Linked DNA regions of Homo sapiens. The protein of the gene in region 4 purifies or fractionates together with the protein of the main gene of each other region. This does not show direct contact. Each region holds a gene or a part of one and is shown on either strand. Other genes may lie near its edges. The genes, in order: CCNT1, PRP4K, PPIL4, FAM76B, DDX42, NSRP1 and FIZ1.

Region 1 (3,500 bases), on a different chromosome or scaffold from region 4:
ACCAGGAGTCAAAGAAATACATAAATAATTTTACAGAATTTAAATATATATTTCATTTTACTGACTAGAACTGATATTCTAATACTTATTTGTAACCCTGATGTCACCTATGCTATACTTTTCTAGAGTAAGTTTTTCTCCACAAATTCAACTCATAGTATTGATTTCAGACAAGACCATAGGAGACAAAAATAATTTAAAACAAAATTTTTTTAGGCCAGACACAGTGGTTCAAGCCTATAATCTCAGCACTTTGGGAAGCAGAGGCGGGGGATCACTTGAGCCCAGGAGTCCGAGACCAGCCTGGGCAACATAGTGAGAGAGACTCCATCTCCATACACATACGGAAAAAACTGTTTTAAGTAAACACAGTGATTCTTTTCCTTCACATTTGTTTCAGATGAATATGAAGCATACTACATATATATTCCTCAGACTTTAGGATAAACAAAACAGGATCAGAGAAAAATGGATATGAACAAAGGTATGGTGATCTAGGCGTAAAGCACATTTTCAATACTAAACTGAGTAGTTAAATACATTAGATAATCGGATGTGGAACACTAGATTTTTTTTCTTTCTTTTTTTTTTTTTTTTGAGACAGCATCTCACTCTGTCACCCAGCTGCAGTGCAGTGGCGTCAAAATCACAGTTCCACTCAACCTCCTGGGCTCAGGAGATATTCCCATCTCAGCCTTCGAAGTAGCTGGGATCACAGGCACACGCCACCACACCCAGTTAATTTATTTTTATTTTTAATAGAGATGGGGTCTCCCTACATTGTCCAGGCTGCTCAAACTCCTGGGCTCAAGTAATTCTGTCTCTGCCTCCCAAAGTCCTAGGATTACAGGTGTGAGTCACCTCACCCAGCCAAGATTCTTAACAAGAGTGACACTAAAGATTTTGAAAAATATCGTTTAAGAAATGTTTATGATAAATGTATATAACTATTATGTACCCATGATAATTAATAAAAATAAATTTTTAAAACAAAGTAATATTTAGAAGGAGTAATCTGATGGTAGGTAAAACTAGGAGAAAAGGATGGGATACATTAAAAGTTAATTCAGGCTGGGTGTTGTGGCTCACGCCTGTAATCCCAGCACTTTGGGAGGCCGAGGTAGCGGATCACTTGAAGTCAGGAATTCAAGACCAGCCCGGCCAACATGGTGAAACCCCGTCTCTACTAAAAACACAAAAATTAGCCGGGCGTGGTGGCACACACCACCACTCAGGAGTCTTGTAGTAGGGTAGTCCCACCTACTCGGGAGAATTGCCTGAACCCAGAAGGCAGGGGTTGAAGTGAGCCAAGATCATGCCACTGTACTCCAGCCTGGGCAACAGAGCCATACTGTCTCAAAAAATAAAATAAAAGTTAACTTAAATAATAATTTAGGCATTAGGACATAAAGTTTAGAGCACTTTGGGAGGCCAAAGCAGGAGAATCACTTGAGCCCAAAGTTCAAGATCAGCCTGCGTAACACAATGAGACCCTGTCTCTGTTTTTTAAAAATTATTTTAAAATATAGAAAAAAGAATTTTAAAAAGTTTAGAGTAGGCCGGGCGTGGTGGCTCACGCCTGTAATCCCAGCACTTTGGGAGGCCAAGGCAGGCAGATCACCTGAGGTCAGGAGTTCAAGAACAGCCTGGACAACGTGGTAAAACTCCATATCTACTAAAAATACAAAAATTAGCCAGGAGTGGTGGCACACGCCTTTGGTCCCAGCTACTTGGGAGGCTGAGGCAGGAGAATCGCTTGAACCCAGGAGGTGGGGGTTGCAGTGAGCCAAGATCACGCCATTGCACTCCAACCTGGGCCACAGAGCGAGACTCTGTCTCAAAAAAAGAAAAAAAAAAAAGTTTAGACACTAGCAGTAGAAATAAAGGAAAAAAGAAACACAGGCATCACTTTGTAAAACTAATAGGGCTGCACTAAATATATGTACATGTACTTGCATACAAAGAAAAAATTCTAATGGGATATACTCTAAAATGTTAACAGGATTATCTCTTTATTTCCTGTCCGTCCTCTTCCAATTTTTTGATAATTTAAAAAGTACATATTTATAAGGAGAGGGAAAAAATGGTAACATTATAAAATTAGCAAGACTTTATAGGCTGGGTGCAGACTCTTGCCTATAATCCTAGCACTTTGGGAGGCCAAGGCAGGAGGATCCCTTGAGCTCAAGCCTGAGCAACATAGCAAGACCTCATCTCTACAAAAAATCAAAAGGAAAATTCACTGGGCGTGGTGGCACTGTAGTCTTGGTAAGGTGGAAGGATCACTTGAGCCCAGGACATGGAGGCTGCAGTGAGCTATGATTGTACCACTGCACTCCAGCCTAGCCTAGGTGACAGAGTAAAAACCTATCTTGGGGTTGGGGGGGACTATAACTAACTGAACAAAGGGGAAAAGGACAAGTCAAAGACTAAGGTTTTAAGCCTATTAGAAACTAAAAGTATGGCATAAACTAATAAAACCAAAATAAAACTAAACTAAATTATGGCACCACTGCACTCCTGGGCAACAGAGGGGACTCCGTTTCAAAAACAAAGAACTAGATAAATGTTTCTTGAGGTAATTAATATTTGTTGTTTGTTAGGGTGGAAAGAAAAGGACCCTCACCTACAGTGCTGGAAACAATGTATAATCTTTCAGTAGGGCAAACTGACACTACAAAAATTTTTATACATTGTATACTCTGGGCACAGCAATTCCACCTATAGGAACTTGTATTAAAATGCTTATATAAGTGCACTATATATGTACAAGACTATCCCATGAAACATAATGTACAATATAATAAACTAGAACAACAACCCAAATAGCTATCAATAAAAAGCTGGTTAAATAAACTACAGTAACTACACAAATACCATGTGGCAAATTAAAATAATAAGAAATCCAAAAAATAATAAAGGGAAGTATGGAAAGATGTCCAATACATACTGTTACATGATAAAGGCAAGCTGTGCAACAGTAGCATAGCAAGATATGATTTTTTAAATAAAAATACCTCAATGCTAGTTTATGTGCACAGAAAAATGTCTGGGTCACTATAAACCAAACATTTATCAATGGTTATCTCTGGGTGGGATTACAGAGTAGTTTTCACTTTCCACATACATTTCTGTACTGTCTTAATTTTTACCATGGGAATTTATTATAATATCTTTGGGTTTCTTCATTTTTTTTTTTTTGAGATGGAGTCTCACTCTGTCACCCAAGCTGGAGTGCAACGGCACGATCTCAGCTCACTGCAACCTCCACCTCCCGGGTTCAAGCAATTCTGCCTCAGCCTCCCAAGTGAGTAGCTGGGACTACAGGTGCACGCCACCATGCCCGGCTGATTTTTGTGTTTTTAATAGAGACGGGGTTTCACCATGTTGGCCAGGATGTTTTCGAACTCCTGACCTCAAATGATCCACCCAACTCGGCCTCCCAAAGTGCTAGGATTACAGGCCTGAGTCAACACGCCCAGCCTCTAATACCTTTGTAA
Region 2 (3,500 bases), on a different chromosome or scaffold from region 4:
AATAAAATAAAATAAAACCCCTCATTGACCAGAGTGCACTCAGACCATGCATTTCCATTTCTAGGAATACAGCATACAAAAATTCTGAGAGATATGTAAAGATGGCTATAATATAAGCCTTTGTTTCTTAAAAATTATATTCATTTATTACTTCAATTAAAAATGTTAAAAGATTGGCAAACAAATACCCATTTATGTTTTATATTAAAATATTTCATGTATGTATGAATTTTAAAAAATGATTCCCTGCTTTATAAACCACCTTTTTAACCTATTACTGACTACATATGCTTCAGATAAAATGGTTTCTATGGCAAATTAAATAGGCCTTTGCCTAAGTCTACAGTAACTATCAATATGCAAAATTAATATAAAATGTAAGAAACTGGGCTATATATTTACTACTACATGATCTACCTTGCTGGTTAAAAAAAAAAAAAAATCCCTAAGTCTGGCTCATTTAGTATTGATTGATAAAAGAGAGAAAAAAGTCCTATTTTTAAAAGACTAATTTTATTGCATCCTAAATGAGCAATGATTTGTTTAAAATTCAAAGGAAACGATATAAAAGAAAACCCATGTGTAGAGATTGCTGGTAAAAGGAAACTATGGGAACACAACTACGATTTTTCAGAGAAAACTGGTCTAAAAGAAAACCTACCAAGTGAGCTCACTGGTGGTTCAAAAACATTCAGAGTTTAATGAATCACAAGGATGAAATGTCTTTACCTTCTCCGAGGAGATCTGCTTCTTCTTCTTGGAGACCTGCTACGTCTGAGTGGGGAACGAGACCTCCTTCTAATGGGAGATCTACTTCTTCTTCGGGTTGGAGACCATCTATTGATGGGGCTGGCATCTTTTGATCTTTCACGTCTACTGAGGATATCATCTCGAGGTCGTGTTCTTAAGGGGATCAAATGCAAGTTAAAAGAAATATAAATCAAAGTAAATGATTTTTTTCTATATGCAAAGAACATCTGTAAGAAAAGGCACATTAGCCTAAAGAAAGTGAACTTTGATTAATGTGTTTTGTAACAAAACTTACTCAGGTGACTACAGTGATATTTTGGTGTTATTGCAGGCAAACAATGAAAGGTCTTATTTCCTCTGGTCCCACAGTTTGAAAAATTACTAAAGGTTATTCATACCGGTAAAGTCACTGATTCTAATTTCAAATAAACCAACTCAAATAAAACCTCCCCAAGTGAGTATAATACTCCATTTACTCAAATATTCCATTTTCATTGACGACTTTTTCTTTCTACATCCTGACATTTCTCCAATTAAGGATCTTTTTTTTTTTTTTTTTTTTTTGAGACAGGGTCTAACTCTGTCACCCAGGCTGGAGTGCAGTGGCGCAAACACGGGTCACTGCAGCCTTGACCTCCCAGGCTGAGGCAATCCTTCCACTTCAGCCCCCCTGAGCAGCTGGAACCATAAGGGCATGCCACCACACCTGACTAATATTTTGTTTTGTAGTGATGGGGGTCTCACTATGTTGCCCAGGCTGGTCTCGAACTCCTGGCCTCAAGTGGTTCTCCCTTGGCCTCCAAAAGTGCTGAGGTTACAGGTGTGACCCACCATGCCCGGGCAAAAATCTTCTTTTTAATGTCAAGTATAATAGGCCAGGCACAATGGTTTACACTTGCAATCCCAGCACTTTCAGAGGCTGAGGGAGGACCGCCTGAGCCCATGAGGTTGAGGCTGCAGTGGCTGTGTTTGTGCCACTGCAGCCCAAGTGACAGAGTGAGAACTTGTCTCAAAAAAACAAAAACAATAGCTAGGTGTGGTGGCTCACACTTGTAATCCCAGCACTGTGGGAAGCTGAGGCAGATGGATCACTTAAGCTCATGAGTTTGAGACCAGCCTGGGTAACATGGCGAAACCCTATCTCTACAAAAAATATCAAAATTAGCCAAGTGTGGTGGCATGTGCCTATAGTCCCAACTAATAGGGAGGCTCAAGTGGGAGGATTGTGTAAGCCTGGGAGGCAGAGGTTGCAGTGAGCAGAGATCATGCCACTGCACTCCAGCCTGGGTGACAGAGTGTGACCCTGCCTCCAGTCTCCCCAGAAAAACCCCACAAAAACCCAACTTTTCAACACTTATCACACAAGTACCTTTCAGTGAGTTTTACTCTTGTTTAATGTGATATTTGTATTACAACAGGCCTTTCTACAGCTTAATTTTTTAAAACAGGTTTTGAACATTTCTTAATGTTATTCCAGGTTTGGTCACAACTATTCAATCTGAACAGTCAGATTGTAAATAGGTTTGTCTCCATAATCAAATAATATTACAGTATTTTCCTCATTTATTATTATTATTATTTTTTGAGATGGAGTTTTGCTCTTGTTGCACAGGCTGTAGTGCAATGGTGTGACCTCGGCTCACTGCAACCTCTGTCTCCCGGCTTCAAGAGATTCTCCCGCCTCAGCCTTGAGTAGCTGGGATTACAGGCATGAGCAACCACGTCCAGCTAATTTTATATTTTTAGTAGAGACAGGATTTCTCCATGTCGGTCAAGCTAGTCTCGAACTCCTGACCTCAGGTGATCCACCCGTCTCAGCCTCCCCAAAGTGCTGGAACACAGGCGTGAGCCACTGCAACTTGCCTTCCTCATTTAATAAAAACCTAAAAACACAACCTGCCTTGCATGTTTCAGCACGGTATACAGAACCCAAGAATCCTTCTCTGATCCAGCCAAAATGAGCAAGGTAGACTTTGATTCAGATCTGTAGTGCTTACTTCTTGGTAGTGCTTACTTCTTGATAGGGCCATCTGAGGAAACTCTTTTATTTAATCTGCTCACATACACGCACAGCCTCAAAAGACCAGTTAAAAAATATAAATGGGCTGGGTGCGGTGGCTCACGCCTGTAATCCCAACACTTTGGGAGGCCAAGGCAGGCAGATAACCTGAGGTCAAGAGTTCGAGACCAGCCTGGCCAACGTGGGGAAACCTCATCTCTGCTAAAAATATCAAAAAAAAAAAAAAAAAAAAAAAAAAAAAAAAATTAGCCGGGCGTGGTGGCGCACACCTGTAGTCCCAGCTACTCGGGGAAGCTGAGGCAGGAGAATTGCTTGAACCCAGGAGGCAGAGGTTGCAGTGAGCCAAGATCACACCACTGCACTCCAGCCTGGGCGACAGAGCGAGACTCCATCTCAAAAAAACAAAACAAAACAAAACAAAAACAACACACATATATGTGTATATATATGTATATATAAATGGATGGGATAAAGTAAACTAGTATAAAAAGAACAGAGTGTTGTCTGCTAAAATGCAATGAAAATAAACAGTGGCTCAGGCCTGTAATCCCAACACTTTGGGAGGCCGAGGTGGGCGGATCACGAGGTCAGAAGTTCAAGACCAGCCTGGCCAACATGGTGAAACCCTGTCTCTACTAAAAATACAAAAATTAGCTGGGCATGGTGGTGCGTGTCTGTAATCCCAGCTACTTGGGAGGCTGAGGCAGGAGAATCGCTTGAACCCAGGAGG
Region 3 (3,500 bases), on a different chromosome or scaffold from region 4:
CATGGGTAAGACTCCATCTCTACAAAAAAATTTAAAAATTACCAAGGTGTGGTGGCGTGTGCCTATAGTCCCAGCTACTCAAGAGGCTGAGGCAGGAAGACTGCTCAACCTCAGTTCAAGGTTATAGTGAGCTATGACAGCACCACTGCACTCCAGCCTGAGTGAAAGAGTGAGACTTTCTCTAAAAAAAAAAAACAAAAAAAAGAAAGAAATGAAATCCCAGGCCGGGCAACATAGTGAGACTCTGTCTCTACAAAAAATAAAATTAGCCGGGCATGGTGGCACACGCCTGTGGTCCCAGCTACTTGTGAGGCTGAGGTAGGAGGATTACTTGAGCCCTGGAGGTCGGGGTGCAGTGAGCCATTATTGTGCCACTGTCCATGCAACAGAGCGAGAACCTGTCTCAAATAAAAAAAAATTAAAAAAAATTAAAAAAAGGGCCGGGCAGGGTGACTCATGCTGTAATCCCAGCACTTTGGGAGGCTGAGGCGCGCAGATCACGAGGTCAAGAGATCAAGACCATCCTGGCTAACACGGTGAAACCTCGTCTCTACTAAAAATACAAAATAATTAGCCGGGCGCGGTGGCACGTGCCTGTAGTCCCAGCTACTCAGGAGGCTGAGGCAGGAGAATCTCTTGAACCTGGGAGGCAGAGGTTGCAGTGAGCCGAGATAATGCCACTGTACTCTAGCCTGACGACAAGAGCGAGACTCCGTCTCAAAAAAAAAAAAAAAAGGAGGGAAAGAAAAGAAAGAAAAAGAAAAAGGGAAAGGAGAAAGGGAAAGGGAAGAAAGAAAAAAGGCACAGTGGAACCTTAAATGTATATTGCTAAGTGAAAGAAGACAGTCTGAAAAGGCTACATACGCTATAATTCCAACTATATGACATTTTGAAAATGCCAAAACTATATAGACAGTAAAAACATCAGTAGTTGCCAAGAAGTGGGTGTTGGGGGTGGGGATGAACAGGTGGAGCCCAGGGGATTTTTTAGACAGTGAAACTACCTTGAATGATCCTGTAAGGGTAGATATATGCTATCGTACATTTGTCAGTTCCACCGAATGTACAACACAAAGCTTGAATTCTAACGTAAATCATGGATTTTAATTAATAATGTATCAATATTGGCTCATCAATTGTTAACAAATGTGTCACAATAATGCAAGACTGGGGGAAAGAGGGAGGGAGTACTTAGAAACTCTCTGTACTTTATGTTCAGTTTTTCTGTAATTCTAAAATTGCTCTACAAATTGTCTATTAAAAACAAAGCCAAAAAAAGAATCCATGAGACACGGATAATGAACGGATAGATAAGCAGTTAAGAAGGGAGGGCTCAGGCGGGCACAGTGGCTCACACCTGTAATCCCAGCACTTTGGGAGGCCGAGGCAGGCAGATCACCAGGTCAGGAGTTTGAGACAAGCCTGACCAACATGGTGAAACCCTGTCTCTACTAAAAATACAAAAATTAGCTGGGCGTGGTGGCGGGCACCTATAATCCCTGCTACCCAGGAGGCTGAGGCAGGAGAATCGCTTAAACCTGGGAGGCAGAGGTTGCAGTGAGCCAAGATTGCGCCATTGCTCTCCAGCCTGGGTGACAGAGCGAGACTCCATCTCGGAAAAAAAAAAAGAAGGGAGGGCTCTTCCTTACAGTAGAATGCAGGTTGGTAATTGTGGAAAAAGTGGTGGGGGTGGGAAATTACCACTTTGCATAATTACCACTTTGCACTTAGCAGAGTCAAAACTGGTGCAGTCAGGAATCATGAATGGCTGAGAAATTTATGGGGGAAATTTGACAAGGAACAAGACATTTGAAAGATCTCCAAGTGTCTAGCCACAGATTGTCTATTGGAGACACCAGGCAGTGGACTACCATGACCAAGTGACCAAAATTACTCATCTTCCAATGAATATCGTACACCTCCAGATGTGACCTCTGAGGACACAACATCACTCACGTACTATTTCGGCTGTGGGTGCATAACCTGAATCTAATCATGAGGAAAGAGTAGATAAACCTAAATTGAAAAATATTCTATTGGCCGGGCACGGTGGCTCATGCCTGTAATCCCAGCACTTTGGGAGGCCAAGGCAGGAGGATCGCCTGAGGTCGGGAGTTGGAGACCAGCCTGGGCAACACAGTGAAACCCTGTCTCTACTACAATTACAAAAAATTAGCTGGATGTGGTGGCAGGCGCCTGTAATCCCAGCTACTCGGGAGCCTGAGGCAGAAGAATCGCTTGAACCCGGGAGGCAGAGGTTGCAGTGAGCCAAGATCGTGCCATTGCACTCCAGCCTGATAACAGAGCGAGATTCTGTCTCAAAAAAAAAAAAAAAAAAAAAATTAGCCAGGCGTGGGTGGCAGGCACCTATAATCCCAGCTATTTGGGAAGCTGAGGCAGCTGAATCGCTTGAACCTGGGAGGTGGAGGTTGCAGTGAGCCGAGATCATGCCATTGCACTTCAACCTGGGCAACAGAAACTCCGTCTCAAAAAAAAAAAAAGGAAAATATTCTACAAAATAAATGCAACAGATGATAAGTCACGAGCTGGATTCTAGTCTGGAGGAGGAAACAATTATAAAAGATATTATTAGAACAACTGGCAAAATTGGAATATAAACTGTAATTTCTTTTTTCTTTTTTTTGAGACGGAGTCTCGCCCTGTTGCCCAGGCCGGAGTGCAATGGCGCGATCTCGGCTCACAGCAACTTTCGCCTGCTGGGTTCAAGCGATTCTCCTGCCTCAGCCTCCTGAGTATCTAGGATTACAGCCGCATGCCTCTATACCCAGCTAATTTTTGTATTTTTAGTAGAGACGGAGTTTCACCATGTTGGCCAGGCTGGTCTCGAACTCCTGACCTCGTGATCCACCCGCCTCGGCCTCCCAAAGTGCTGGGATTACAGGCGTGAGCCACTGTGCCCGGCCCTATAAACTGTAATTTCTGTCACTTCTAAATTTTCTGATTTTGGTAACTACACTGTGAATACGTACATATTGTTATACACATTGAATACTGCTGCTCTTAGGAAATACACACTGATTAAGAGGTAAAGGGAAATAACAGGCAACTTACTGTCAAATAGTCGAGAAAAAAAATGTGTGTTTATGTGCTTGTATAATCAGAGAGAGAGAAAAAGAGAGAATCATAAAACAGATGTAGCAAAATGTTAAAAATTGGTGAATGTGGGTAAAAGGTATATAGAAGTTCTATGTACTTTTTCCCATAAATTTGAAATTATCTGAAAACAAAAAGTTTTAAAAAGTATGTTAATCTATTTTCTTCTGGCATAAACTTCCAAAGTGTTGCTGTGGAAAAGTCTGATAACAATCTAAATTCATTCCCTTATAAGTAACTTATTCTTTCTGCCCAATTGTTCAACATATCTTTCAAGTGTAGTAATTCTCTTAGAATTTGTCTTGGTGTTGGGTGTTCAGAGTCAATACTCTGAGATACACAGTGTGCTCATTAAAATGTGTATTTTCAATTAATTTTTTTAATTT
Region 4 (2,165 bases):
TTTGACATAATTAAATGAATTCAAAGACCAACAGCTTCCCTTATCACACAGAAACAAATCACAAAATTTTCTACAATCTATATGCATTATCAGTTAGTTCTAAATGTAATCTCAAACATTTTACTAGCAACTTTGATTTCCTTTTGAAATAGGCTTCTGTACATATGCATTTATATACAAACATTTATTAAACATGATTTTAAAACAAAATGTATGTACAAAAGATCAGCATTCCTATAAATAAAAACATTAGGTGGCAAAAAGGCACTTGTAAGTAAAAATCTACAGTAGTTTTTACAAAACAGAAACACATTTTACCTTAGATACTGTACAATAAACATTAATTCCTATACCAATAATGAAAATGCTAGGTTACTAATGTTAATGATGTAACTTTAAAAAACAAATTTACATATATCTGAAGTTCATTTAATAAAAGCACCGTGATTTTCTCCTAAATTCATCTTGATGCAAAGTAAAAACACAATTCCCAAAAAACCAGTGTTCGCCATTTTTCGAGTTTAAAAGTTTTTGTATTTCTAAATTGAAAACTGTTTGTCTGAAATTAGCATAGTGTAAAACAAAAACAAAACAAAAAAACCCTGCTGCTCTGACTTCTGAAACCATACCTACTCTATTATTGCATGTTGCGTTTCATAAAGAGCACTACTCATGCACTCCTTTACAACTGTTTAATACTATTGCTGGCAAAAAAGTTCCTGGATATCAAATAATTAAAAAGTTACTTCAAACCAGTTGAAGTTTTATTTGAATGTTTTACAACTTAAAAAATGCTGTATATCAATTACAAAAGTGAACAGGAAACACACCAATTCATTTGGTGTGCAAAAATATTTTTCTACTACACAGAATTTAAGGGCTTCACAGAATTTTTTTTCCCCAAATTTACATTGTAAGAAGAAATGCTAAACAAATGACTTTCTCAAGGAGATGTTAGTATGCTTCCACTTTTGTCAAATTTTTTACCCTTTGATAATGCTGCGACCTGTTTGAGTAGTTCTCTGTTTTTGGCCTGTGGGAGACAAAAACATTCAAGATTAAAAATGTTTGAAATATTATTAAGTCATGCTGAAGAATACTACTTATTTAATACTGTTTTCATTTATATAAATGTTTCACTAAAGCACTAACATTAAATGAAAGAGTTGATACCTTTACATTCATCTCTTTAAGGATGAACATGCAGAAGGAAAATTCTAGATTGGCTCATCAGCCCCCTTTGTATATGTCATTATTAATATAATTGTGTCCAAAGATGCACAATTGGTTACAAAAAAGGAAACAAAGTGAATCCACTTAAAAGAAGGTCCAAATTTTAATAGGGAAAAGGTGTTTGGCCCTTCATCTTAAAAACATGAAAACTATGAAAATAAGTTGTAATTTACAATTAATAAAATCAAAGAATGAATCAAGATTTGGGAGGAGTATTTCCTGGCAAGCTGTATAAGGTCTTTTTTCTATGTTTACTCTCTTGTAGAACAAGCATAAGAGGTCATTTTTGCAAAAACAACTCAGAATTTGTTACTTTGCCAAATGCACCCAATGATATTCAATTTTTTTTAAAGCACCCATCAGAACCACTCATTATCTTGTTGTTCCTTTAGTTACCAGTCATCTGACACTGATTTTAGTGTGGTTTGAGCAGTTCCACATCATCATTTCCTATCTCATGAAAGCTTGAATTTTTACAAAGATTCAAAATTTCATTTCATCATCTGACTTGAATTTCATTATTAAATGTCCATCCATCACTAGTTTAGTGAAGAGGAATGTGTAAGTACAGTGAATATTTTCACATTTTGACTGCCTTTGTCACCTTATTCAGTCTCTTAAATATGAAAACTTAGATAGTAAGGATCCCTATATATACAAATACATTAATGATCAAGCATTTTTGTAGTTTGAGCCAAAATGGGGAAAGTGATGAAAATAGAGCACTGCCCTAAAATTAACACATTTTAAAAAGATATCCTCTGACTTATGTTTCAACACCATTTTCCTTCACAGGTTCCAGGAATTTTTATTATATAGACAGACTTTTTTAATCTCAGTACTTCATATTTTATTCTAATTTTAGCTTTTTACGGGCAGATAACACTCTGCCTTCTCTGTATGCCATCTTAAAGTGGTTTCATGAAATAACC
Region 5 (3,500 bases), on a different chromosome or scaffold from region 4:
TTCTCAGAGCCCAGGCCAGGCCGCTCCCTGTAGCCTAGGCCTCCTCCACCAATGTTCAGCTTTTTTCCTTTCCCTCCTTTGAATCGAGATTTCCGAAACCAGGCATTCTGCATTGAACAAAATTCAAGGTTAAGTCAAGGGAGGGAGAAAAGAACAGAAGAAGAGAACGAGGACAAAGAGGAAATTAAGTGGGAAGGGGGAACTTTTGCTTAATTTTCAGCCAGCACTACGCTAAGGGAGGAATTTTCACAGGAACCACAGATTGGTTTCTCTTTGGTAGCATAATCCACCAAATTTGAAAAGTGGCTGAGATCCTTATCTAAGGCTTCCTACAGTGCTCCCTCCCTCAAGGCTCTCCTGGAAGGGAAGTTGTTCAGGTAAGCTTCAAACCCAGAGGAGTAACTTTGGCTACTTCTAACTTCCTTGAGGAAAATGAGCTTATATTTTATTTCTCAAACCATGTATTATTGGACGTAAACATTTGGAACTTAAACAACTGGTATGTTCAGAAGCAAAGGAAAAATGCTATGTGAAGTGAGGCTTATCAGAACTGACTATAGGGACAGACTCCCAGAAAGGATGGTAGCCACACAACTGAAAATTTTATTTACCCGCAGAGCGTAAAAGTTTTCATTGAACTTGACCATTGCCACTCAACATATTTACTCACATTCTCTTAAGAATGCAGGGCGGTGGCTCACGCCTATGAATCCCAGCACTCTGGAGGCCGAGGTGGGCGGATCACTTGAGGCCAGGAGTCAAGACCAGCCTGACCAACATGGTGAAACCCCGTCCCTACTAAAAATACAAAAATTAGCCAGGCATGGTGGCACATGCCTCTAATCCCAGCTGCTTGGGAGGCTGAGGCAGGAGAACTGTTTGAACCGGAGACGCAGAGGTTGCAGTGAGCTGAGACTGCGCCACTGCACTCCAGCCTGGGTGATAGAGTGTGACTCCATCTCAGAAAAAAGAAAAAAAAAAAAAAAAAAAAAAAGCAAATGTCTCTGGGAAGGTTAAAGTTTTATCTGACAATCACATATTACCAGCAAAATAAAGTGCTTGAGAGGTAGGGCAGCAGGCTTGGACAAAGTCCTGAGCACAGAAAGCCTGAGGTACAAAAAGAAATGGAAGAAAATGCCAAAGTCAAAATGTGTCCTGTTTTAAAAGTTTATTTAGGACTAGCTCTCTGTGCTCAGGAGCAGGGGAGGAAACATTATTCTCTTCTCTCCTGCAGTGCAGGTCCTTTACTCCTAGGACCAGAAACTTGGGCACTGCCACATTGCAGCTGGGTTGTACCAGTTGTGTGAGCTGGCCTAGGCATTTGACAAACTCTTAACAGTTTCTGCTCTCAGAAAGTGTTCCGAACCCATTTGTAATTTGGGGACAGCATGGATTCAGATGACTCCAGGTTTGATTTGTTAGAATGCCTCACTTAGCTTTAGATTGGAGCACACCTGGAAGAGGGCAATCAGTGTGGTCAGAGGTCTGAGATCTCTGCAAGGAACAGTTAAGAGGCACCATACAGGCTGGGCACGGTGGCTCACGCCTGTAATCCTAGCACTTTGGGAGGTTGAGGCCGAGGCGGGCGGATCACCTGAGGTCAGGAGTTCGAGACCAGCCCGACCAACATGGCAAAACCCCATCTCTACTAAAATTACAAAAATTGGCCAGGCGTGGTGGTGGGCGCCTGTAATCACAACTGCTTGGGAGGCTAAGGCAGGAGAATTGCTTGAACCCAGGAGGCAGAGGTTGCAGTGAGCCGAGATCGTGCCATTGCACTGCAGCCTGGGCGATAGAGTGAGATTCTGTCTCAAAAAAAAAAGGTGGGGGGGCACTATACTATACACATATTGTTTTAAAGGCATCACACATTTTTAGCCTCCCAGAAGAAAAATTTTGTGGGGGAAGAGCAGTAAGGAGAATAGTAACCATCTTTGAGATTAAATTTACTCCTAAGTGTGCTATGGGGTAGAAATTACAGCGACAGATTTTAGCACAAAGGAATAGCTTTTCAAAACAGATGCTGTTGAAAGAAGAAGACCAGATAAGACTAGATGAATTTTAGTATCTCACAATTCCTATCTGTACCTCATAAGCCCCACATCCTCCTAGCCACCCAACTTTCTTGTCAAGTTTTTATGTTATCTGTTCCAGGACTGCTAAAATGTCTTGGTCTTATAACCAGGAGCAATTGAAAGTGTGCCCAGCCCCTCACCTGCATTGCCAGATCTAGGAGTTCCTTAGAAACGTGTTGATTGGCTCCTTCCAAGTTCCGGACCAGGTCACCAGCAAAATTGCTGTCCTTGGGAGTGAGTAGGGTATAGGCCACACCTTTCTCACCCGCTCTTCCTGTGCGGCCAATCCTATGCGTGTGGGTATCAATGTCTCGTGCCACATCATAGTTAATGACAGTCTTAATTGAAGGAATGTCCAGACCACGGGCTGAAATAAAAAGCAACCAAATTCTTTTATTCTTCATCTGTAGTCAGAAGATCAAAGTAACCAGAAATGCTAGTGCTAATAAGCCACATTTCCTTTATCTAGGCAAAGCGCATGGGTTTGGTGAGCTGAGATACAGGCATGTTAAGTCACCACCACAGATTCTATGATGTTAGGCCTTCTAGTGTAAGGGACTTTTATTTTTTAGAGACGGAGTCTTGCTCTGTTGCCAGACGGGAGTGCAGTGCCATGATCTCGGCTCACTGCAACCTCCGACTCCCTGGTTCAAGCAATTCTCCTGCCTCAGCTTTCCAAGTAGCTGGGATTATAGGCACGCGCCACCACACCCAGCTAATTTTTGTATTTTTAGTAGAGACGGGGTTTCACTATGTTGGCCAGGATGGTCTCGATCTCCTGACCTCAGGTGATCCGCCCGCCTCCACCTCCCAAAATGCTGGGATTACAGGTGTGAGCCACCGTGCCCGACTGGGACTTTTATCTTTTGCATCAGTAATCTGCCATGCCCTCTTCTCTTGCACTGGGAATATATATTTAAAATGTGTCATGAAGCTGAGAAGTTCTCTCCTTTCTAGGAAAAAATATCAGTGTTTAAGGGTAGTTATTAAAACTTGACAGAACAAATCCAGAAATTATATTCCAAAAACTGTTCTCATCCTGAGTTAAGTTGCCCAACTAAGCTGTGTATAGTAGATCAATGTAAGGGTAAGGTATCTACTATATTCAGACATACAATAAGGGCATTCACTGCCTTTTTTCCCAGAGTGACTTCTAGCTGCAGGGATTCTTTGATTAGAGAGAAATACTAAGTGAAAAGTGGTATCTAGAGCTCCAGACTGTGATCCCTGTGCTGAACTGCTGCTTCCTTGGGGGTTTGGGAGGGGATGGCCAGCCAGGCCAACAGTCTTTCCATCAGCCTGCTCAGATATTATAGGTCTTATGTAGTAAGACAGAGTACCCTTATAGCCTAGGAACTTAATGTTGTTGAAAAATTCATACTCTACCTGCAACATCTGTGGCCACCAGGACTGGGATGTCCTTTT
Region 6 (3,500 bases), on a different chromosome or scaffold from region 4:
AAAGGCACAAGGAAACAGTAGCAGAATCTCTCCCCTGTGGTTAGCTGTTTGCTCTGTCACTGAACTTTAGGGTTATGAGTTTGTGATCATAATTTATATATAGGAATTCAAGACACAAGGAATATGGTATTATATAGCAGTATAAAACAGAAAGGAAAGTTTAACTAAAAACACAGTTGAACTCTTCAGTAACTATTATTTCTACTAGACTTTTCTCTTAGTTCTCATTTTGTGGCTTTTGCCTTAGAACATGATCTGAAATGTAAAAACATTTATTACAAAGTATAACGCCATGGCATTTGTCAGAAACAATATAAATATAATTTTAAACCCTAGTTACATTTTTTTGGGATGAGAAAATAATAGAGTAACACCACTCAAGGAGGATCAATGAGGCAATTAGAAAAAGAATAACATTAATTGAAGAAAGAATAAAAATTGGATGAATTAAGAATATCTTAATGCTTTACCTTAGTGCTTTCTACTCATGATTATTTCTCAAGATCTAAGTAGAATATGTATTTATAAAATACTTTTTTTTTTGAGACTGGGTCTCTGTCACCCAGGCTGGAGTGCAGTGGCTCAACCATGGCTCACTGCAGCCCTGACCTCCCAGGCTCCAGTGATCCTCCCACCTCAGCCTCTTGAGTAGCTGGGACTACGGGAACATACCACCACGTCTGGTTACTTTTTGTATTTTTTGTAGAGACGGGGTCTCACTATGTTGCCGGGGCTGGTCTCGAACTCCTGGGCTCAAGCAATCTTCCTGCCTCAGCCTCCCAAAGTGTTGGCATTACAGGTGTGAGCCACCATGACCAGCCCTGTAAATACTTTAATTGACAAATGCTCATCAGCTTTTTGGACAGAGTCTCGCTGTGTCGCCCAGGCTGGAGTGCAGTCGTATGATCTTGGCTCACTGCAACCTCTGCCTCCCAAGTTCAAGTGATTCTTATGCCTCAGGCTCCCAAGTAGCTGGGATTACAGGCATGCACCACCACACCTGGATAATTTTTATATTTTTATAGAGACGGAGTTTTACCATGTTGGCCAGGTTGGTCTCGAACTCCTGAGCTCAGGTGATCCACCCACCTCAGCCTCCCAAAGTTGTAGGATTACAGGCGTGAGCCACTGCGCCCATCCTCTTCAGCTTTTAAGTAGAAGAAAACCAAGTCTATAACATTCTGTCTAAGCATGTACTATGTGTTTAGAGTGCCAGTCGGCAAACTTTCTGTAAAGGACCAGATAGTATTTTAGTATTCATATTTTAAGACTTTAAATTTATAAATTCATATTTTGAATGCCAGATCATATTCATACTTTAGGGCTTTTTGTGTATATGATCTCTGTCGCAGTTACTGAGCTCTGCCTTTGTAGTACAAAAGCAGTTGTGGACAATACATAAATGAACAGGGCTTTGTTTCAATAAAAATTTATTTATGAAAACAGGCAACAGGCCAGATTTGGCCTGCAGTTTGCCAACTCCTGATCCAGCGAGTAGTTTACACACTGTATGTTATATACTGTATGTCTGTAAAATGAAACTGCACTGTGCCTTATTGAATATATTCTAATTTTTGCTTTCCCTCTGTTAGCATGTTTGGATGTAACCAAGCAGAAAGATCTCAGTGGATTTTATAGGCACCTATTAAATCAAGCAGTTGGTGAAGAGGAAGTACCTAAATGCAGCTTTCGTGAAGCCAGGTGAGGAGACGTGTATGAAATATTTTGAAGAAAAATACTGTTAATAATCTGTGGTTGTGGGGTCATTTTAACCCTCTGAAAGATGGAAGATTACAACATTGCATATTGTGTTGTCAGCCAGCCTTACCTAACTGAATGAATGGCTAGAAATTTGCAGTTTCTTGATTTTAAAACCTACAGATTTAGTTTAAGATCATTTTTATTCTGCATTTCACAGAAATTGTTACATTAAAACAGTGATTGAGTTTAATATTATTGTAAAACCAAAGACAGACTTTTAATGTATAAAGTTTCTGAATTTTTAAGTGATTTATGGGTCTTAACAAGGGAGAGCAAAATCTTCAAGGGAAAGCAAAATCAAATTGTAGTTTTTTCTTTTTTCTTTTTTTTTTTTTTTTTTGAGGCAGAGTCTCACTCTGTCGCCTAGGGTGGATGGAGTACAGTGGTTCAATCATAGCTCACTGCAGCCTTTGCCTCATGGGCTCAAATGATCCTCCCAAGTAGCTGGGACTACAGGTGCAAGCCATCATGCCCAGCGAATTTTCTTTTTGTGTTTTTTGTTGTTGTTGTTGTGTGTGTGGTTTTTTTTTTTTGTTTTTTTTTTTTTTAGATGGAATGGAGTCTTGCTCTGTCACCCAGGCTGGAGTGCAATGGCGCGATCTCTGCTTACTGCAACCTCTGCCTCTCAAGTTCAAGGGATTCTCGTGCCTCAGCTTCCTGAGTAGCTGGGACTATAGGTGCATGCACTACGCCCGGCTAATCTTTGTATTTTTAGTAGAGATGGAGTTTCACCATGTTGGCCAGACTAGTCTCGAATTCCTGACCTCAGGTGATCCACCCGCCTCGGCCTCCCAAAGTACTGGGATTATATGCATGAGCCACCACGCCCAGCCTCTTTTTGTATTTTTGTTGTGGAGATGGGGCTTTATGTTGCCCAGGCTGGTCTTGAACTCCTGGGTTTGAGGGATCCCCCCTCTATCTCAGCCTCCCAAAGTGCTGGGATTACAGGTATGAGCCACTGCACCTGGCTGCTTTTTTTTTTTTTTTTTTTTTTTTAAATAAGAATGTGGGTATTCCTCATGATCCTTAAAATGATTGGTGCCTGGTACCTTAAAATGATTTTGCTGTCAGAATTAAGGAGAAAGTTGGAAAGAATTAGGTGTCTACAATATAAGTCTTATATACATGTTCAGATAGTGTATAAAAAGGAAAGTGGTTTGTTTTCATAAATAGAACCCAGCCTTCCTAAAATGTAAGACTTACATATCGGGGCTAGAACTGCACTGTTAGTATGTAGGCACTAGTCACGTGTAGCTACTTAAATTAATTTAAAGTAAATAAAGTAGGTTGGGCGCAGTGACTCACGCCTGTTATCCCAGCACTTTGGGAGGCTGAGGCAGGTGGATCATGAGATCAGGAGATGGAGACCATCCTGGCCAACATGGTGAAACCCTGTCTCTACTAAAAATACAAAAATTAGCTCGGCATTGTGGCACATGCCTGTAATCCCACCTCCTGGGGAGGTTGAGGCAGGAGAATTGCTTAAACTCGGGAGGCGGAGATTGCAGTGAGCTGAGATAGCGCCACTGCACTCCAACCTGGCGACAGAGCCAGACTCCATCTCAAAAAATAAAATGGCTGGGCACGGTGGCTCATGCCTATAATCCCAGCACTTTGGGAGGCCAAGGCGGGCGGATTGCGAGGTCAGGAGATTGAGACCATCCTGGCCAGCACGGTGAAATCCCGTCTCTACTAAAAATACAAAAAATTAGCCAGGCGTGGTGGCGGGCGCCTGTTGT
Region 7 (2,821 bases), on a different chromosome or scaffold from region 4:
GACAACGGATTCCTGGACTCCCAGAGGGTTGTGGCACAAGCTCTCTGTCACACCTACAGGGCCATGATCTAGGGAAACGCTCGTCCTATCACTCTCTGTTTGGGGTCACGGTAGATTCTTTCGGTCCTTAAAAAGGCCATGTCCTGGCTGGCCATGGTGGCTCACGCCTGTAATCCCAGCACTCTGGGATTGCATAAGCCTAGGTGTTTGAGACCAGCCCAGGCAACACAGGGAAACCTTGTCTCTACAAATAATTTTAAAAACTAGCTGGACACGGCACACTCCTGTGGTCCCAGCTACCTGGGAGGCTGAGCCAAGAAGTTTGAGGCTGCAGTAAGCCGTGACCATGCCACCACATTACAGCCTGCATGACAGGGTGAGACTGTGTCTCAAAAAAAACAAAAAAACACGACTGGGTGCGGTGGCTCACGTGTGTAATCCCAGCACTTTGGGAGGCTGAAGTGGGTGGATCATTTGAGGTCAAGAGTTCGAGACCAACCTGATCAACATGGTGAAACCCTGCCTTTACTAAAAATACAAAAATTACCCGGGCCTGGTGGCGGGTAGTCCCAGGGACCTGTAGTCCCAGCCACTCAGGAGGCTGAGGTAGAAGAATCACTTGAACCCGGGAGGTGGAGGATGCAGTGAGCCAAAGACGTGCCACTGCACTCTAGCCTGGGTGACAGAGCGAGACTCTGTCTCAAAAAAAAAAAAAAAAAGCCCGGGTGCGGTGGCTCACGCCTGTAATCCTAGCACTTTGGGAGGCCGAGGCGGGCGGATCATGAGGTCAGGAGATCGAGACCATCCTGGCTAACACGGTGAAACCCCGTCTCTACTAAAAATTCAAAAAATTAGCCGGGCGTGGTGGCGGGCGCCTGTAGTCCCAGCTACTCAGGAGGCTGAGGCGGGAGAATGGCATGAACCCGGGAGGCGGAGCTTGCAGTGAGCCGAGATCGCGCCACTGCACTCCAGTCTGGGCGACAGAGCGAGACTCTGTCTCAAAAAAAAAAAAAAAAAAAAAAGAAATCACTATCGGTGGCTAATGGCTATACTGGACAGTGCAGCTCTAAAGTGACACAGCAGCCAGCCCTAGCAGGGTGTGTCTTCTCCCTTGTCAAGCCCTGCTATCCCGAGCCAGTTATCATGAGCTGAATACAGGCCTTAGGTGTGTTAGGGCAGAGAAGTGATTTTGAACCGAATCCGGCTACTGCTCAGAGTTTCTCCCACTGAACGCTTTTCACACATACAGATCCAGGGAATCACTTCCAAGTCTAGGGAATCGAATCTCCCAGGAGGGAGTCCAGGAATCTGTATTTTTTTCTGAGGCATTGCCAGGCTTGTAGACTGTGTAAAACCGTGCCTTAGAGAGGTTTTTTGTATTGATATTTGTCCTTGTTGATTTAAGATTTTGGAATAACAGAGAGAGATTTGTGAGTATGGTAATGTCTTCCTGGAGGCCTGTGAGGAGAAGGGTGAGGCTGGATGAGAAAGAGTGCAGTGCTTGATTAGTAATGTCTGCCAGGGGCACAGATCTGAAGAAGGAACAGGGAGTGATGTTCATTTGCCTTTCTGGCTCCAGACTCGATGCACCTGCTGTACAGTGTGGGTGTAGGGATCTCTATCCTCTTTGTCACTAAATTTATTCTCTCTCTACTCTTTTAACACAACAAGATTATGCTGGTCCCAGGGCCCTTGTACATGCTGTTCTCACTGCCTGGAATGCCCGTAGGTCTATTTATCTGTCAGCTCCTTGGAAACCCTTCCCGGAATCTGGCCCCCTGGCTCATCAGTGATCCTCTTCCACCCTCCTTCTTTAAAGCCTATGGCTCATAGCACACTTAGTGTCTACATATAACTTGAGTGTTGTCTGTCTCCCCACCAGCTAAGGACGATAAAAATAGTGACCACATTGGTTTTGCTCACAGCTGTATTTCCAGGGTCCGGCACTCTCCAGACTTCTCCTGAGCCACACTTTCTGCTTCTCCATGCTCCAGTCACATTGGCCTTCCTCCAGTTCCTCCAAAGCCTGCTTTGCTTCCTTGAAAGTACACATTTTGTTCCCTGGATCCGGAAAGCCTCGGACCCCAGAGGCAGATCATTCCTCACCTTTTTCTCGGGAAAACCATCCCTGACCCCATCCCCGATCCAGACTGCTTCAGCTCTCTCTTGCATTAGCCTCAGAATATGGTTATCCTCCATCCTCAGATGTCTCGGCTGCAGCCTAACATTGATTAACCTAGTTGTTCAGTTCACATCTCCCACATTTGACTCGAGGCCATACAAAGGGTGGACTGTATCTGTTTTGTTCCCTTAGCTATTTTTTTTCCCCCAGAGAGCCTAGCACTGTATCTAAATACAGTAGGTGCTCCTGAAATGGTTCAGTTGAATCACAACCTACTGGTGGGTGGGGGTGAGGCCCCTCAGGGGACTGTCAATTGTTGCATCAAGCTAAGGAGCTCCCCTTTCATCCTAAGGATCAAGGGATTTAAGCAGGGGTCACCTGGTCACTCTGTGATAGATGCAGAGACTGGATGTGAGGGAGAGAGACAGGAAGGAGGGAGACCACTGAGAAAGCCGGGGCCAACATTCAGGATGTGAAGTCCTGAACCAAGGCAGATGCATGGGGACAGAGAGGACAGCCAAGTGTGAAAGACCATCGGTAGATGCCTGGTTTTCTTCACCCTGGTTGTGCAAGTGTCTGGCACATAGACAGAGTGTGACCTAGCCCGTCCCATCTTTCACCTTACCTCCTTCCACCCCAACCCCACAGTCTCCCATCGCTTCCTGGAACACAGCACACTCCTTCCTTCCTCAGGGCCTT

What was found.
Region 1: the proteins of FAM76B (region 4) and CCNT1 purify together in Homo sapiens (affinity purification with mass spectrometry; one large-scale study listed by BioGRID and IntAct). This does not show direct contact.
Region 2: the proteins of FAM76B (region 4) and PRP4K purify together in Homo sapiens (affinity purification with mass spectrometry, with the first as the bait; one large-scale study listed by BioGRID). This does not show direct contact.
Region 3: the proteins of FAM76B (region 4) and PPIL4 purify together in Homo sapiens (affinity purification with mass spectrometry, with the first as the bait; one large-scale study listed by BioGRID). This does not show direct contact.
Region 5: the proteins of FAM76B (region 4) and DDX42 purify together in Homo sapiens (affinity purification with mass spectrometry, with the first as the bait; one large-scale study listed by BioGRID). This does not show direct contact.
Region 6: the proteins of FAM76B (region 4) and NSRP1 purify together in Homo sapiens (affinity purification with mass spectrometry, with the first as the bait; one large-scale study listed by BioGRID). This does not show direct contact.
Region 7: the proteins of FAM76B (region 4) and FIZ1 purify together in Homo sapiens (affinity purification with mass spectrometry, with the first as the bait; one large-scale study listed by BioGRID). This does not show direct contact.

The regions. Positions count from the first base shown.
Region 1 is NC_000012.12:48,706,708-48,710,207, forward strand, and holds part of CCNT1 (cyclin-T1), read right to left. Parts: intron 1-3,500. UniProt on the Homo sapiens protein: Regulatory subunit of the cyclin-dependent kinase pair (CDK9/cyclin-T1) complex, also called positive transcription elongation factor B (P-TEFb), which facilitates the transition from abortive to productive elongation by phosphorylating the CTD (C-terminal domain) of the large subunit of RNA polymerase II (RNA Pol II).
Region 2 is NC_000006.12:4,034,800-4,038,299, reverse strand, and holds part of PRP4K (serine/threonine-protein kinase PRP4 homolog), read right to left. Parts: intron 904-3,500; coding exon 730-903; intron 1-729. UniProt on the Homo sapiens protein: Serine/threonine kinase involved in spliceosomal assembly as well as mitosis and signaling regulation. Connects chromatin mediated regulation of transcription and pre-mRNA splicing.
Region 3 is NC_000006.12:149,529,044-149,532,543, forward strand, and holds part of PPIL4 (peptidyl-prolyl cis-trans isomerase-like 4), read right to left. Parts: intron 1-3,500. UniProt on the Homo sapiens protein: PPIases accelerate the folding of proteins. It catalyzes the cis-trans isomerization of proline imidic peptide bonds in oligopeptides.
Region 4 is NC_000011.10:95,770,618-95,772,782, forward strand, and holds part of FAM76B (protein FAM76B), read right to left. Parts: intron 1,034-2,165; coding exon 944-1,033; 3' UTR 1-943. UniProt on the Homo sapiens protein: Negatively regulates the NF-kappa-B-mediated inflammatory pathway by preventing the translocation of HNRNPA2B1 from the nucleus to the cytoplasm.
Region 5 is NC_000017.11:63,812,170-63,815,669, reverse strand, and holds part of DDX42 (ATP-dependent RNA helicase DDX42), read right to left. Parts: coding exon 3,462-3,500; intron 2,443-3,461; coding exon 2,216-2,442; intron 108-2,215; coding exon 1-107. UniProt on the Homo sapiens protein: ATP-dependent RNA helicase that binds to partially double-stranded RNAs (dsRNAs) in order to unwind RNA secondary structures. Unwinding is promoted in the presence of single-strand binding proteins.
Region 6 is NC_000017.11:30,179,316-30,182,815, forward strand, and holds part of NSRP1 (nuclear speckle splicing regulatory protein 1), read left to right. Parts: intron 1-1,592; coding exon 1,593-1,701; intron 1,702-3,500. UniProt on the Homo sapiens protein: RNA-binding protein that mediates pre-mRNA alternative splicing regulation.
Region 7 is NC_000019.10:55,593,697-55,596,517, forward strand, and holds part of FIZ1 (flt3-interacting zinc finger protein 1), read right to left. Parts: exon of another isoform or gene 2,200-2,821; coding exon of another isoform or gene 1,924-2,199; intron 1-1,923. UniProt on the Homo sapiens protein: May be a transcriptional repressor of NRL function in photoreceptors. Does not repress CRX-mediated transactivation.